Regions from separate parts of the Homo sapiens genome. Here region 1 is linked to region 2. The links come from fine-mapping of genetic effects on gene expression. A gene starts in region 2. The other region holds a variant in brackets. All regions are shown on one strand. Distances are from middle to middle. Region 1 overlaps RAD17 (RAD17 checkpoint clamp loader component). Region 2 holds the start of RAD17 (RAD17 checkpoint clamp loader component).

The links.
Region 1: its variant is fine-mapped to the expression of RAD17 in skeletal muscle (FUSION, PIP 0.95).

What each region holds. Positions count from the first base shown.
Region 1 is chr5:69,394,713-69,403,699 of GRCh38, reverse strand. It overlaps RAD17 (RAD17 checkpoint clamp loader component), which reads right to left. Exons shown (of 19, transcript NM_133338.3): 16 at 7,154-7,303; 17 at 3,531-3,651. Among named protein-coding and RNA genes, the nearest start is that of MARVELD2, 16 kb to the left of the region's middle. The variant A/C (reference allele first, on the strand shown) is at 3,587.
Region 2 is chr5:69,366,780-69,375,757 of GRCh38, reverse strand. It overlaps RAD17 (RAD17 checkpoint clamp loader component), which reads right to left and starts at 5,940. Exons shown (of 19, transcript NM_133338.3): 1 at 5,825-5,940; 2 at 4,587-4,723; 3 at 4,201-4,304; 4 at 3,541-3,724; 5 at 1,671-1,928; 6 at 1,047-1,130. The coding sequence starts at 3,549. It overlaps AK6 (adenylate kinase 6), which reads left to right and starts at 6,238. Exons shown (of 5, transcript NM_016283.5): 1 at 6,238-6,295. The coding sequence starts at 6,268. It overlaps TAF9 (TATA-box binding protein associated factor 9), which reads left to right and starts at 6,238. Exons shown (of 3, transcript NM_003187.5): 1 at 6,238-6,295. RefSeq lists an enhancer at 5,137-5,686.

The DNA of each region.
Region 1 (8,987 bases), 28 kb before region 2:
GATCTTCCCACCTTGGCCGCCCAAAGTTCTGGGATTATAGGCATGAGCCGCCATGCCTGGCCCAGAAATTTTAAAGATAGAGTTGACCTTATCAGTGATCAGAAGAAAGGATTAAAGACTAAATATCTACTTTGATACAATGAAGTGTTTTATCTTACAGCTTTTGTAAGTACTGATACTTAAAGTGTTTAAAATGTTGTGTATTCATAGGCAAAAATAACGTTTATGCAGTGGACATGATGAATCTGTTGGTCAGAATCCAGATATCTTTCCTCTCCTTGCCAATTTTTTTTAAGATCACTTCTGTGGTATTTCTGCCAAAAAAATACATATCCTGAATCCAATAATGAGGAATCACCAGACAAACCCAAATTGAGGGATCGTACAGTAACTGTCCTATATCCCTCTAAAATGTCATGGACAAAGAAAGACTACAAAACTGTTCCAGATCAAGGGAGACTAAAAACACACGGAAACTAAATCACTAAATGCATCAGGTTATCTTTCATTGGATTCTGGACAAGAAATGGGGAGTTATCATTTTACAAAGGAGATTATTAGGGCTGGGTGCAGTGGCCTGTGCCTATAATCCTAGCCCTTTGGGAGGCTGAGGCAAGAGGATTGCTTGAGGCCAGCAGTTCAAGACCAACCTGGCCAACAAAGCGAGATCCCATCTCTATTAATTAAAAATAATTAAAAAAGGATATTATTAGGACAATTGGAAAAATTTGAATGGGGACTATAAAATAAACGGTATTAAGTTAATTTCCTGATTTGATTGCACACTGTGGTTATGCAGGAAAATGTCCTTGTTTTTGGCAAGTGCAGACTTAAGTTTTTAAGAATAATGGGATATCATGCCTGCAATTTACTCAAGACTAGTTTAGCAAAATAATACATATATGTGCATGCTTATAAAGAGAGAGAATATAATCAGGCAAATATGGTAAAAAATGTAATAATCAGGAAACTTAGTGAAGGATATACAAGAATTTTTTGTACTATTCTTGCATCCTTACATTTAAAATAATTTTTTTTTTTTTTTGAGACAGAGTCTCACTCTGTCTCCCAGGCTGGAGTGCAGTGGCGTGATCTCAGCTCACTGCAAGCTCCGCCTCCCGGGTTCATACCATTCTCCTGCCTCAGCCCACTGAGTAGCTGGGACTACAGGCACCTGCCACCGTGCCCGGCTGATTTTTTATATTTTTAGTAGAGACGGGGTTAGCCAGGATGGTCTTGATCTCCTGACCTCGTGATCCGCCCGCCTCGGCCTCCCAAAGTGTTGGGATTACAGGCGTGAACCACTGCGCCCAGCCTGAAATAATTTCAAAATAAAGTTTAAAAACCAGTGGCCGGGCGCGGTGGCTCACGCCTGTAATTCCGCACTTTGGGAGTCCGAGGTGGGCAGATCACTTAAGGCCAGGAGTTCGAGATCAGCCTGGCCAACATGGTGACACCCCACCTCTACTAAAAATACAAAAAAAATTAGCCGGGTGTTGTGGCACATGCCTGTAATCCCAGCTACTTTGGAGGCTGAGGCAGGAGAATCGCTTGAACCTGGGAGGCAGAGGTTGCAGTAAGTCGAGATCATGCCATTGCACTCCAGCCTCAGCAACAAGAGTGAAACTCCATCTCAAAAAAAAAAACAAAAAGTTTAAAAACTAGTGTAATCTTTTTTTTTTTTTTTTTTTTTTTTGAGACAGAGTCTTGCTCTGTTGCCCAGGCTGGAGGGCAGTGGTGCAATCTCGGCTCACTGCAAGCTCCGCCTCCCAGGTTCATGCCATTCTCCCGCCTCAGCCTCCCAAGTAGCTGGGACTACAGGCACCCACCACCAGGCCTGGTTTTTTTGTTTTTTGTGGGTTTTTTTTGTATTTTTAGTAGAGATGGGGTTTCACCATGTTAGCCAGGATGGTCTCGATCTCCTGACCTTGTGATCCGCCCGTCTTGGCCTCCCAAAGTGCTGGGATTACAGGCATGAGCCACTGCACCCGGCCAAAAACTAGTGTACTCTTAAAGCAATTGGCAAGGAGAAGGGCAATCTCTGGATTCTGATCAACAGATTAATCATGACCACTGCCCAAAAGTTATCCCATTTTTGCCTATGAATGCATAACATTTTCAAAACTTGTGCAGATGTATACTGCCACAGGCATAGTAATGTTTGTAGCATTATAATTTCGTAACAGAAATATAATGAAAAATACTATTAATAGGCATTTTTGTAATACTGAAATCCACCAAAATATCCATCATAAGGTTAAATAAAATGTTTACAAATTGGAAAAAAATGAGATTGCTGCTCTGACATTAACTTATAAGATATGAAAGGCTATCCACAGTAAGTGACATAAGCAAATTAAAGCTTGCCTCATTCTGCATGTTTCTACATCCACAGAAGAGTATCTGGAAGAATTTACATTAATCTGTCAAAGCAACCTGTGGTTGTAGGGGAAGTACTTTCAATTTTTACTTTAGAAACTTTTTTCTTTTTTCTGAGACAGTCTTGCTCTGTCGCCCAGGCTGGAGTGCAATGGCCTGATCTTGGCTCACTGCAACCTCCGCCTCCGGGGTTGAAGGTTCTCCTGCCTCAGCCTCCCGAGTGGCTGGGATTACAGACGCGTGCCACCACGCCTGGCTAATTTTTTGTATTTTTAGTAGAAATGGGGTTTCCCAGCCTTGGCCTCCCAAAGTGCTGGGATTACAGGCATAAGCCACCACGTTCGGCTCTTTATATATTTCTGTATCATCTGATGCTTTTTGTTTTTTTGAGACAGACCTCACTTTGTCACCCAGCCTGGAGTGCAGGTGTGCGATCTTGGCTCACTGCAGCCTCCACCTCCTGGGTTCAAGTGATTCTCCTGCCTCAGCCTCCCGAGTAGCTGGGATTACAAGCGCATGCCACCACACCTGGCTAATTTTTTTATTTTTAGTAGAGACAGGGTTTCACCATGTTGGCCAGGCTGGTCTCGAACTCCTAACCTCCAGTGATCTCCCTGTCTTGACCTTCCAAAGTGCTGAGATTACAGGCATGAGCCACTGCACCTGGCCTGTTTGATGCGTTTTAAAAAAAAAACATAAAGGATCCAGAATTATCTGGATCAAAAAATAAAAGGAAAAAAAGTATCTCACTGCATATAGCAATAAATTGGCCCACAAAAAGATATTGCTATAAAACCCTACTTCTGGCCGTGTGCGGTGGCTCACACCTGTAATCCCAGCACTCTGGGGGGCCGAGGCAGGCAGATCACAAGGTCAGGAGATCGAGACCATCCTGGCTAATACAGTGAAACCCCATCTCTACTAAAAATACAAAAATTAGCCAGGTGTGGGGGCGCGTGCCTGTGGTCCCAGCTACTCAGAAGGCTGAGGGAACAGAATTGCTTGAACCCAGGAGGCAGAGGTTGCAGTGAGCCGAGATCGTGCCACCGCAATCCAGCCTGGACAGTAGAGACTCCCCCTAAAAAAATAAAATAAATAAATAAATAAATAAACCCTACTTCTTAAAAGAAAAGAAAAACCTATGTTATTACCTTGATTTCTCATTGGAATGGTTAGTAGAGCAAGGTATGGCAATAGCTGAGTTTGG[A/C]GGCATAAAGCTGGTAGGCAGAAGTCAGGAAAAAGTGCTTTTGCTGCCAGGCAATTTTCCCGATACTGTATAGAAAAGAAAAAAAAAAGATGAAAGGAAAAATGAAATTAAAAATATGTATTCCTAGACAAACTAAGTTTATTATATAAACTTACACAATAAGTTTATATTAACTTGTGGGTTTATATATCACAAATATACTTTTAATAGCTTATTTAAGTAGTCCTTTATAGTTTTTTTAGCATCGTTTAATAAAGTATTTTACCTACACAACTATTCCACATTTAATAAACAACAATTTTTAAAAGACATTGAATGTATAAGAAAACCAAATTTAAAACTCAAAGGAATTGTTTATGAGCACACACACATCATAAATTACACGAAAATAGTTTTCAATGAAATAATTTGTTTTCTTTAGTCAACACGTTATGCTGAGCAAGAGAAAAGCACAATCCCTGCCTTCAAGAAGCTAACAGTCTTAGATAATTTATATGCAGCAACAATGCAAAATTAATATATATGCTATAAAAGACAAAGCAAGTCAATGAGATATAAATTGCTTAAAAGTCATTAAATTCTCCAAGAAATCTGTTGGAAAAAATGTCCTAGGTAATAAATTATAGGGTAATTTTCAGCTGTATGATTTTAGAACTGGAAGACATCTCAGAGACGACCCAGTCCAGGGGTCACGAATTCAGATATTACAGAAGTCAAGCAGGCAATATAAGTGAATGAACCAGCTGGGGACAGTGGTGCCTACTACTCTCATCTCAAAGGGGCAGATGCTACATGGCGAGGTGATTGTTGCTACGCAGAAATATGAGCCAGTGTTATACTTCACTTTCATTTTTTTGAGAGATGGGGGTCTCACTCTGTTGCCCAGGCTGGAGTGCAGTGGCACAATCATTGTTCACTGCAAACTCTGCCTCCCAGGCTTATGCAATCCTCCCAATTCAGCCTCCCAAGTAGCTGGGACTAGGTAGGAAAAACAAAAAAAATTTTTCCTTTTTCCTGTAGATATGGGATCTCACTATATTGCTGGTCTCAAATTCCTGGTGTTTGCCACCACACCCAGCTAATTTTTTTATTATTTTTTTTTTTATACAGATGGGGTTTCACCATATTGCCCAGGCAGGTCTCAAACTCCTGGGCTCTAGTGATCCTTCCACCTCAGCTTTCCAAAGTGCTCGGATTACAGGTGTGAGCCACTGCACCTGGCCTCTTTTTTTTTTTTTTTTTTTTAACCAGGAGATTCCAGAAATTCTGAAGCTAGAAATTCATATCTAACTTTTTTTTTTTCTTTCTGAGACAGAGTCTTTTTCTGTCGCCTAGGCTGGAGTGCAGTGGCATGATCTCGGCTCACTGCAACTTCTGCCTCCCGGGTTCACGCGATTCTCCTGCTTCGGCCTCCTGAGTAGCTGGGATTACAGGAGCGCACCACCACACCTGGCAAACTTTTGTATTTTTAGTAGCGATGGGGTTTCACCATGTTAGTCAGGCTGGTCTCGAACTCCTGACCTTGTGTTCTGCCCGCCTCAGCCTCCCAAAAGTGCTGGGATTACAGGTGTGAGTCACAGCGCCCAGCCGAAATTCATATCTGACTTTTAATCATTAGTCTGATTTTTAAAGATTGGCAATTCATTTTGAAAACTGTTGTGTATTTTGTTTTCAACTTGTGTGCCTCCCATTTTTTACCTCTAAATAATTCAATCATCTACATTTTTAGCTGTGGAGAGTAAGAACACATTAGGTGAATACCTTGTCCATATAGAGGCAAGGCCAAGATTTCTTCTCCTTTCTTTGATTAATTTAAATTGACAAATAAGCTCTGTATGTATTTATAGGTATACAACATGATGTTCTGAAATATGTATATATGGTAGAATGGCTAAATTGAGCCAATTAACATATGCATTACCTTACATACATATATTTTTTGTGTGTGGTGAGAACACTTAAAATCTACCGTTTTAGTGATTTTCTTTTTTTTTTTTTAGATGGAGTCTCGCTCTGTCTCTCAGGCTGGAGTGCAGTGGCGCCATGTCAGCTCACTGCAAGCTCCGCCTCCTGGGTTCACGCCATTCTCCTGCCTCAGCCTCCAGAGTAGTTGGGACTACAGGCGCACGCCGCCACACCCGGCTAAGTTTTTTTATTTTTAGTACAGACAGGGTTTCATCGTGTTAGCCAGGATGGTCTCCATCTCCTGACCTCGTGATCTGCCCGCCTCAGCCTCCCAAAGTGCTGGGATTACAGGCGTGAGCCACCATGCCCGGCCATGATTTTCAAATACATGACACATTGTTGTTAATAGTCACCATGTTATACAACATATCTCTTGAACTTAAAACTTATTCCTCCTGGCCAGCGAGGCTCCGTCTCAAAAACCAAAAACAAAAAAAACTTATTCCTCCTGCCTAACTGAAATTTTATATACTAGGGATTTCTATTTTCCAATCAGCATTCTCAGGTTGAACTAGGGTTTATTTATTTACAATTTTTTTCTTTTTCTTGTAGATATGGGATCTCACTATGTTGACCAGGCTGGTCTCAAACTCCTGGGCTCAAGTGATCCTCTTGTTTTGGCCTTCCACAGTGCTGGGATTACAGGTGTGAGCCACCATGCCTGGCCCTAAAGTTTGTTTTTAATTGAAACTGAAATATAACTATGCAGCTGGGCACAGTGGCTCATGCCTGTAATCCCAGCACTTTGAGAGGCCAAGGCGGGCAGATCACTTAAGGTCAGGAGTTCAAGAACAGCCTGGCCAACATGGCAAAACCCCATCTCTACTAAAAATACAAAAATTAGCTGGGCATGGAGGTAGATGCCTGTAATCCCAGCTACTCAGGAGGCTGAGGTGGGAGAATTGCTTGAACCTAGGAGGTAGAGGTTGCAGTGAGCAGAGATGGCACCACTGCACTCCAGCCTAGGCAAGAGAACGACTCTGTCTGAATAAAAATAAAAAATAAAAAATAAAATATGGCCGAGCATGGTGTCTCACATTTGTAATCCCAGCACTTTGAGAGGCCAAGGCAAGAGGATCATGAGGTCCAAAGATCGAGACCAACCTGGCCAACATGGTGAAACCCTGTCTCTACTAAAAATACAAAAAATTAGCCAGGCGTGGTGGCTGGCGCCTGTAATCCCAGCTACCTGGGAGGCTGAGGCAGGAGAACTGCTTGAACCCGGGAGGCGGAGGTTGCAGTGAGCCGAGATCATGCCATTGCATTCCAGCCTGGGCAAAAAGAGCGAAACTCCGTCTCAAAAAATAAAAAAATAAAAAATAAAATAAAATGTAACTACGCTTTGATTCCAATAAAACTGAACTAATATTTTCAAATTGTGATGGTCTTTTTTCCCTTAAAAAATTGTACAAGCATTTAAGAGTCACCTTTTTATGTTTTATAAAAACTCAGAATCTAATTGTGGACCTTAGCAACTATTTTATTAAAAATGAAATATTTTTTCCTTTGTTATGTTTTAAAGAAAATAACTGCTTTGAGTTATAATTCACGTACCATAAAGTTCACATATTGAAAGTACAGAATTTTTTTTTTTTTTTTTACCTTTTTATTTATTAGAAACCACTGAGGTTTGTGCAAGGGTCGAAAACTTGATCCTCCTCCTTGGCAATGAGCATATCCTCGGGCTTTGTTGGAATGCATCACACCTCTCGTAGCTATAGATGTGCTATATTCCCTGAGTAAAGAGCGTGTCTAACAAATGAGACAAGATGTGAAAGAAAATAGATTTATAAAAGAGCATTACTGGTATTCCTGATATATACAAAAATACTAACCGTATTTAGTTTCTATGTGTTCACTTTCTTCAACATCACTACAGCCCTATAAATAACAGCACTATAAACTTATCTAAAGCAAATTCCACTGGGACATAGCCATCAAATTAAATGTGTAAACCCTGACTGGATCTTGGACAGGGGTGGAGGAAACAACTTTGAATACATTTTTGAGGCAAATGAGGAAATCTGAATAGGGACAATATATTGCTAGATTAGTGTGAAGTTTCTCTGGAAAGTTAACTTAATTATATAACTAATTAGTTAATGTAACTAATTAGTTAATATAACTAAAATATAATTGAAACTAAAATATGACTATGCAGCTGGGCGCAGTGGCTCACGCCTGTAATCCCAGCACTTTGAGAGGCCAGTTATATCAACTAGTTATATTTTAGTTTCAATGGGGTATGATAATGCTATGGTAGTTGTAATAGAACAATGTCCTTATGCTGCTTAAGTGTCACGATGTTCGCAATTACTAATACTTTCCAATTATTCAGCCAGAAACAAATACGTAAATATATAGAGAGATTAAGAAAAAGTGGCAAAATATGCAAACTGCTAAACAAAAGTTAAGGATATGCAGCTATTCATTGTACTATCATTTTTTTTTAATTTTTAATTTGTGTGGGTACTTAGTAGCTGTATATATTTATGAGGTACAGGGGTCATTTTGATACCAGCATACAATGTGTAATAATTACCTCAAGTTAAATGGGGTATCCATTACCTCAAGCATTTATCCTTGGTGTCACAAACAAGTCAATTATACTCTTTTCGTTATTTTGTATTATTATTTAAAATAGGGTCTCAGTCTGTTGCCCAGCCTGGAATGTGGTGGCACGATCACAGCTCACTACCACCTCAAACTCCTGGGCTCAAGTGATTCTCCCACCACAGCCTCCCAAGTAGCTACGACTACAGGTGCATGCCACCATACCCAGCTAATTTTTAAAATCTCTTCTAGAGATGGGGTCTCGCTGTGTTTCCCAGGCTGTTCTCAAACTTCTGGCCTCAAGTGATCTTCCTGCCTTGGACTCCCAAAGTGCAGAATTACTGGCAGGAACCACCACTCCTGGCTCATTGTACTATCCTTTTAATTTATTTATAGGATGGAAAATTTCAAAATAAGAAAGAAACAATTATTTTAAAAGTTAAGCAAATTCAACTGCTGAGTAATGAAGCTCTATAACATAAATGGTTTTTCTGTGTCTTTCCTAATTTTACTTATTACTGCTATTTCAATTTTTTAATTTTTTGAGACAAGGTCCAGCTCTATTGCCCAGGCTGGAGTGCAGTGGTGTGATCTCAGCTCACTGCAACCTCTGCCTCCCAGGCTCAAGCCATCCTCCCACCTCAGCCTCCTGAGTAGCTGGGACCACTACACCCAAACAATTTTCTTGGTATTTTTTTGTAGAGATGGGGTTTCATCACATTGCCCCAGCTGGTCTCATACTCATGAGCTCAAGTGATCCACCTGCCTCGGCCTCCTTAAGTGCTGGGTTTACAGGTGTGACCCACTGAGCCCGGCCTTATTTTAATATTTATAGCACACAGAAATATTAACGTATCAAAATAGTGTCGTCCAACAGAACGCC
Region 2 (8,978 bases):
TTTGGGGACAAATGCAGAAACGTGAATATGAATTCATCATTAGACAGCATTACGGCATCCTGGTTAACTTTGTTAGAGAGAATAATGGTATGCATAATTAATTAGGAAAATCATTTTTTTAAAAAAACAGACATACTGAAGTATCTAAAAGTCTAACTGAAATGTCACAATGTTTATAATTTACTTTAAAATACTTAAGGGGGAAACAATGAGTATATTCTATATATATTTTTTTATTATTCTATTTTCTTTTATGCTTGAAAAATCTCAAAATAAAAAACATTTAAAAAGGGAGACTGATGGAAGGAGAGAATATTCTACCTTGGGGGTTCAAGGTAATTGTGCAGTAAGGAAGTGAAACAAAAAATATCAGTCTAAAATAAATAATGACTGTTTTTGGCTATATTTAGTAGAGAAACTAACATGTAATTTGCCTGCTTTCCTCAGCCTGAGATAATCTGATGTGCTAAATACACTAGCACCCTAATTGGTTTACTGATTCTTTATGCTAACAATAAGACATAAAGAAAAAGAGTTACAAATAAAGGGGAAAACTCAAAGTCTCTGAGTCTTTTAGTCAAGTTGGAAGTAGTAAAGTCATGAAGCTTTCTTTTTCGCTTTTTGTTTTGTTTTGCTTTTTACGGTTTTTGGTATTGCTCTGTTGCCCAGGCTAGAGTGTACTAGTGTGATCACAGCTCACTGCAGCTTCCACCTTCTGGGCTCAGGCGATCCTCCCACCTCAGCTTCCCAAGTAGCTGAGACCAGAGGCATGCACCACAATGCCCAGCTAATTAGCTGTAGAGACAGTCTCCCTATGTTGCCCAGGCTGCTCTCGAACTCCTGGGCTCAAGTGATCCTCCTGCCTTGGCCTCCCAAAGTGCTGGGATTACAGGCATGAGTCACCATGCCCCACTAGGGAGCTTTCTACTGCAGGAGATCTAGACTTATTTTGAACAAAATCATCATAAAACTTTAACTTCTAACAACACACTGTAAGTCAGAAAAATATTTGATGTTAAATATTTAAAAACACATTTCTTAGTTACCTGTTTTGGTTGCCTTTCTAAAACTTGAGCTTTTAACCAGGTTTCGACTTCTTCAATTTTCTTTTTATGCACAGCAAGTTCATGCTACAACAAAAATTTCAAATTTAAAACAAAACTTCTTAACTGAAGATTTTTTGGTACATCAGCACATATGAACCTAAGCATTATTAACGAAAAGAAGTAGCAAATCAGTAACAATCTATATAATAAAATGATCCTTTTGATTATACTTGAATTTTTATACTATTATGGAAAAATTATATTCTTAAGTTGATACCTCTGTATGATAATTTTGGCAAGTTTGCAGTTATAACATTTTTTAAAATTCAGAAATACATTTTGAGAAGACAGTAGAGAGGAGTATTACATTTAGTACAAAAATTTTTAAAAAGATCAATTCTATGTTGGGATTAAATTAAATCTAAGACAACTAATCATACAACTTTAGAATAACTATTGAGAAAAATCTAAGCCTTGGAAAATAAAAAAATCCAGAATTTTTTCTAACACTTAGAAAGATTCTTATGAGTAAAAAATCTGAAAATGTAAATCCCTCTGCTTCCCATCTACCCTTATGCACCCTGAAATTAAATTATGTAGATATGTCTGCATGCTTTTCAGTACCTGAGTTTCTGGTTTATATTTATCCACCCATGGTTCATTTTCAGACAGATATTCTTTTGAATTTTCTAAACCATAAATCTGTTCTAAGGAAGATAGATTTCCTCTTTTTCTCGCTGGAAATCTGCTGCTTTCTAATGTAGAAGGCCCATTTTTTCTTCTATGACTTGAGTTATTCACACCTAATGATGTGGCAGTAATAGTAGAGACGCCACTACACTCTAGAAAATCATCAAATGATGGGTCAACCCAGTCTGTTACCTGAAAAAAAAAGAAATCATGTAAATATAATCACATTTTCTCCCATCTATTCCCCCAAATAACTGAACTACTCTGGAAACAACATATTCATATATTTATAACCTTTAAAACTTAAAAAAAAAAAAAAAAAAAAAAAAAAAAAATTTTTTTGAGACCGGGTCTCACTCTGTCACCCAGGCTGGACTGCAGTGGTATAATCTCAGCTCAAGCAATCCTCCAGCCTCAGCCTCTTGAGTAACTGGGACTACAGGCATGCACCACCATGCCCAACTAATTTTTTTGTATTTTTTGTAGAGATGGGTTTTTGCCATGTTGCCCAGGCTGGTCTCAAACAATTCTTGGGCTCAAGTGATCCTCTCACATCAGCCTCCCAAAGAGCTGGGATTAAAGGTATAAGCCACCATACCCGGCCTAAAAATCTTACAAATTAACTCTTTTTAAATAAAACTCTGTCTGTAATAGTTGTTTTTCTACTTTACAGTAAGTGCAAGTGCATACTTGTCTACTTGACCTTAAAGGAGTAAAGAACACAAACTTATTTTTATTAATTGTAACCTTCCCAGCATAAACACTAGAATGATTTTTTTAAACTCTCTGTAGGATTGAAACATAAATATTAAAATTACCTATTAAAAAAAGCAAAACAAAATAAACAAATGATAATATTTTAACAGAAACAGCAATAAGAGTAATATATCTGCCTTGGCCAGGTTAATACATTCACAAACTAAGAACCATTTCATACATCCAAATAATCCGTATCAGCTTGAAGACTTAGTGAAGATATAGGCCAAAGATCATAACGTAATCTGTAATTATGACTGGATTATATTTTTCTTCAGTGTATGAAGCAACTAATATTTTTATAATTGAGGCAGGCTTTCCAGAGGGGGAACTGTCACTCAGAAATGCCTGGGAATGGTTGGGTGTGGTAGCTCACACCTATAATTCCAGCACATTCAGAGGCAGAGGCAGTAGGATTGCTGAGCCCAGGAGTTTGAGAACAGCTAGCATAACATAGGGAGACCCCAACTCTACAAAAAATAAAAAATTAGCCAGGCATGGTGGCGCACGCCTGTATTCCCAGCTACTTGGGGGGCTAAGGTGGGAGAATCACTTGAGCGCGGGAGGTCAAGGTTGCAGTGAACCATGATCACCCCACTGCACTCCAGCCCGGGCAACAGAGTGAGACCCTGTCTCAAAAAAAAAATTTTGCTAATAATTAGAAATTATTAGCTAATAATTACAAATAATTAGAAATTAGAAATTTTTACTAGATTTTTTAACACTCTAATAGCATAAATCTAGAAAAATATAGCTTCAGATCTGGTTGTAGAATCTACTGCCTGGCTAACAAAAAGAAACCAAGTTATATATTTCTTTCAAGAATACTCAGCCACAGTTGAGCTATTTATTAGACAATGTTCCTCTCTTGAAGAAAATGAACCAGAAGTTGGAGCTGAAAGTAGGCTTAGGGGAGACAATTTGGGGCTTATAAATACTTTACGAATGCTAAGTCACACTTCACTCTTCTTTTAAGACAGAGTTAGGAATATTATCGGCAGTGGATTAAAAAAGGAAGACCACTGGAAAAAATTTTAGTCATAGCTACCTGATTCATTTCGTCCTCATCAAAAGATTGTGACTGGTACTATAATCTTGGCCCCTTTCCTCTATATTTTTGAGAGTATGAAAATATCTTTCATTATAGTAAAACTTTCGACAGCAATTCTGATTTGCAAATTATTTATACATTTTATAGTTTCATTTCTTACATAAATGTGGACTCCCATATACTGAAAAAAAGAGAAAGATAAACAGCAAAGTTAAGTAACTTACTTAACATCAAAGAAAATTTAGAGCTACCACTTAGGGAAATAGCTACCCTGCATGCATGAAACTGTCTGACCCCCATCCCACCTTAACCCCTATCTTGCTGAGAACTCACACACTGAATTACATTACTTCTAAGAAGCAGTGCTTTTGGTTAAGCTATAACACCAACTACCACTCATATTTCTCTCTTCTATGTTCTTTCATTCAAATGTTTTCAGCCTTTGTGACTGGGACTGTAAAACACTTTTTCAAAATTAAGGTTGTGCTTTTAGAGAACACTTGTTTCACAACTTATTACCAGACTTGCTTAAATCATTAATTACAATAGATACTCGGCTCTATTACTTTGATAGCAGTAATAAGTTATTAAGAATATATATAAAAATTTATAATTATTTTAAGGCAATTATTACATGGCCATTCCAGTGTATCATACCTTTGTGGAAGATACCTTTGGTCTAAGAAAAGTTTTTGACATTATAAACTGTAATAGTTCCCATCCGTAGTTTAGGACTTGCAGTACATTAAACTATAATTCACCTGGGGGGGGGGGGGGGAAGAAGCCCTCAAATGAAGAAAAACTGTAAATGCCCAATTATAGTAATAAATGTATACTGATATAATCAACAATACAATAAAGGCTCAAGAACTAGTGAAAAAGAACAGTAAATTTAAGTGATACAAGAAATCAAAATTCTAAAATAATTTTAATGACTATAACTGTATCAAATAATCTACTTGTGGTGTTAAGAGTTTTTCACATGAACTCAATGATGTATTAGAAAAAAAAAAACAAAAAAACCACACATACTATGTACTTACCTTTTGTCATTAAAATCAGGCAATTCTATTTGAGCAATTTTTATACTGAAAATTAAAGTTTTCCTTATTTCAAATTACAGTTGCAGGTCTTCATTTCCAGTATTTCCCAAAAAAGTAAAATACCATGAATTCACTTGCTGTGGACGAAGAATTTAAGTCTTAAACTGTAAAATTTTTGTCTTCATTTGAACATGTTATTACAAAATTTCTTGGTAACACTGTTTTTCAACCGTGTTTTCAAATTCTTAAATGTTTATGCAAACTAGTGAATTCAACGATTTTAAGTTAGCCAGAAGAAAAGTTTAAGGTCTACAAACTTATACATTGGAAAGTATACTGGACTACTTTACAGTTTGGAGGCACACATAGCCTATAAACACCTCGACACACTAGAAAACACATTGTTCAGCCCTCCGCCCCAAATCGTTCACGATTAGAGACTGTGACGTTTCAAAAGGTATACAGGTGGAAAAAAAACACCTATTTGAGTAAATATAGTTTGTAGCTCGAAATAAAAGATGCAGACCAGGGGCCGGACGCGGTGGCTCATGCCTGTAATCCCAGCACCGTGGGAGGACGAGGCGGGCGGATCATCTGAGGTCAGGAGTTTGAGACCAGCCTGGCCAAAACATGGTGAAACCCCGTCTCTATTAAAAATGCAAAAATTAGCCGGGCGTGGTGGTGGGCGCCTGTAATCCCAGCTACTCTGGAGGCTAAGGCAGGAGAATCACTTGAACCCAGGAGGCGGAGGTTGCACTCCAGCCTGGGCGACAAGAGTGAGACTCCGTCTCAAAACAAAACAAAAACAAACAAACAAACAAAAAAAGGTGCAGACTGTTGTCACGGTCAGGTCTCTATTCACTCTTGAAAACAAGATTGACAATTACCTCCTTTAAAAAGCAGATAACTGTCCCTGAAGATGCGAGGTTACTGAAATGAGATGTCAGAGGTAGACCTTCAAGACTATTCCTAGCCGACCCACCACCACCCCACACAGTGAACAGGGAATACTAAGCTCAAATATTCGTCCAACGTAATCCTGTAATCAGTGGGGTGCCGGGTTGAGCTCGCAAATCCCCGCTGCAGGACAGGGCTCTGCACCCTCAATCTTCTCATCCCCAGATGGGATGGGCGGGTCGGGAGGAGGAGCGACGAGAGCCCAGGAAAGCTTGAAGGCAGAGATAGACTCACGTCTCTAAGACATATACATAATATAGCCGCAACCGCGGCGGCCTTACTTTCCCGGAGCTGCATCCCCTTTTAGGCGAAGAGCGGAGGCGACCAGGGACTACCCTAGGTGAAAGGGCAGCCACCTGGCCCTACCCGGGCTCAACGCCGAGCCTCTCGGAGGTACGGCCTCCCGGGGACCTTCCAGACTGGTCGGCGCAAGCGAAGGGCGGGGACCACCGAAGGAGTGTGTGACTTAGGCATCCAGCGCACTGCCTGACCCGAAGTACCGACCCGAGTTATGCCCACCCTCCAACTTTGCGACGGAAATGTGTCATCGAAAGCCAGGTAACCAGTGGGCCGCGGCTGGGCCGCCGGGGCAGGCTAGGGGCGCCGCGGTGGGCTTCGGGGCCTTTGGGGCCGTGGGCTTTTGCTGCCGCCCGCCCCTTCCGGCTCCTCCCTGTAGAGCAAAGGGCACGTGAGCGAGGCGCCCGAAGCCGTCGCGGCGGGGACCATGTTGCTTCCGAACATCCTGCTCACCGGTCAGGGCGCGCGGCCGGGAGGGACTGGGCTGGGGCAGGCTGGGGGCGCAGAGTGCTCTGGGCATCGGGCGCCCAGGTGGGGGCCCCTCACTGCCCTCTTCAGAGGCCGGCCGAGGGCCACGAGGCGGTTGTCAGCGCCCCGGGAGCCGACCCTCGCGGGCGTTGCGGGAGGCGAGGGAGGGGACGCGGAACGTTAATTCCGTTGGCCTGAGGCTCCGGGGGGGGGCGGGGGGGGGTGGAGAGAGGTCGGCAGATCCAGCTCTCCAGCTTGGCAACCTGCTTAGTCTTTCTGAATCTGGTATTTCGTTTGTAAAATGGGTTGTTGATTCTTTGGCAGGGTTGGCCTTGGGATTTTTAGCGAAATAACGTAAGGCCATATCTGCTTCCCGGTAGAGTCATTAATGGTGGATGCCTCACTCCTTAGGCCTCCGTGGGCCGTATTTTATTTTTTCTTTGCTTCTGATAAACGCCTCAGATTAGATTTCGGTAAACGAGTTCAGATGTTTGTGACGTGACGAAATTGCTGTATGCTTTTGTTGAGTTACATCAAAGGATCCCCCCGCCCCTTAAAAGGAAGGCATATAGAGCATTTCGGGTCGTTTCTCGCGTAGGAGTGGGTCTTTGAAGCCATACTCAGGGTGCATGTTATCAGTGAAGGGAATTAAAATGCTGCATAACGACTTTAACGAATATTTTTGCTAGCCGTTTAGTCCTGAAAGTGTTTATCAAATTGTAGGCCATTCGTGGAAAAATCTAATGCATGTAGATTTTATTGCAAGGTACAGAAAAATTAAGACTCTTTGTGGGAACAGTAAAGTTACATCATTCACCCAAAGGTAAAATTGTTGGCAGCGCACAAGACATGTCTGTTTCTGAGAGGTGCAGATTAACCACCCCACAAATAACGTTTAGAATTTTAGATTCCTTAAGCGGAAGATTTTACATCTTTTTGCATGGATCAAACATAGTGCCCTGGTTATTAAGTCATTGTCAAAACTTTAAAGTGAACATTTTATTGAAAACATGTTGAGTCCAGGGTTCAGACTTGGTGTATTATAGTGGACTTGAGGTGACCGTTATTCTCCTGGGTATGGGAACTGGATTATCCCTGTTATCTTTATGCTTAAGTTTAATTTCAGGGATGTTAAATCTGAATAGCTGAAAATTATGAATTTGATGATCTTGAAATGTAATTTTAATAGGTATCAGAAGGGGAAGGTAAAGAACAATGTATATAGTATTGTCATTTATGTAAAAGGGAATATGTGTTGTATTTATATAACAAAGAGTATGTACATATATGTACATTTACATGCAAACATAAATAGGGTTTCTTTGGGAAAGGAAACTGGTTTACAGTGGTTATCTCTAGGGAAGGGCGCAAGGGGTCAGTAGAGGTAATTTTCAGACTGCTTAATTTTAACATGAACAGTTTTGTTTTTGTTCTTGTTTTTGTTTTTGTTTGAGACAGAGTCTCATTATGTTGGCCAGGCTGGTCTCGAACTCCTGCGCTTAAGCGATCCTCCCGCCTTCTCCTCCCAAATTGCTGGGATTACACGCGCGAGCCACCACACGTGGCCATGAACAGTTTTTAAATCTTTATAAGTTAAAGCAAATAGGCCAGGTGGGTGGCTCATGCCTGTAAATCCCAGCACTTTGGGAGGTGGAGGTGGGGAGATCGCTTGAGCTCAGGAGTTTGAGCTTAGCCTAAGCAACATAGCCAAACCCCGTCTCTACAAAAATTAACCAGGGCATGGTGGTGCATACCTGTGGTCCTAGCTACCGGACAGGCTGAGATGGGAGGATTGCTTGAGCCCAGGAGGTAAAGGCTCTAGTGAGCCAAGTTCCACTGCACTCCAGCCTAGGTAACAAAGAGATATCTTGTCTTTAAAAAAAGAAAAAGGTAAATAAATTATTGTAATTGATTCGAGGTGGCTAATTTTTTTTTTTTTTTTTTTGAGATGGAGTCTCTGTCGCCAGGCTGGAGTGCTGTGGCGCGATCTTGGCTCACTGCATCCTACAACTACCTGGTTCAAGGGATTCTCCTGCCTCAGCCTCCTGAGTAGCTGGGATTACAGGCACGCGCCACCACGCCCGGCTAATTTTTGTATTTTAATAGAGATGTAGTTTCACTATGTTGGCCAGGATTGTCTCAATCTCCTGACCTTGTGATCTGCCCGCCTCGGCCTCCCAAAGTGCGGTGATTACAGGCATGAGCCACTGCGCCCAGCACGAGATGGCTAATTTTATTCTCAGCAGTTCCCCGGTAGCAGCAGGCAGTTTGAATTGGCGTCAGAATCTGCTGAGCCCCACCCCTGGAGAATCAATACACTGGGTAATATTCTGACATTCAGTTAGCTTTGGAAAATTTTTATTAGATCGTAGTACATGCTAATTTACATATGGCCAGGCATGGTGGCTCACGCCTGTAATCCCAGCACTTTAGGAGGCCGAGGCTGGCAGATCACCTGAGGTTAGGAGTTTGAGACCAGCCTGGCCAATATGGTGAAACCCGGTCTCTACTGAAAATACAAAAATTAGCTGGGTATGGTGGTGGGCACCTGTAATTCCAGCTACTGAGGAGACTGAGGCAGGAGAATCGCTTGAACCTGGGAGGTGGAGGTTGCAGTGAGCCAAGATTGTGCCACTGCACTCCAGCCTGGGCGACAAGAGTGAAACTCTG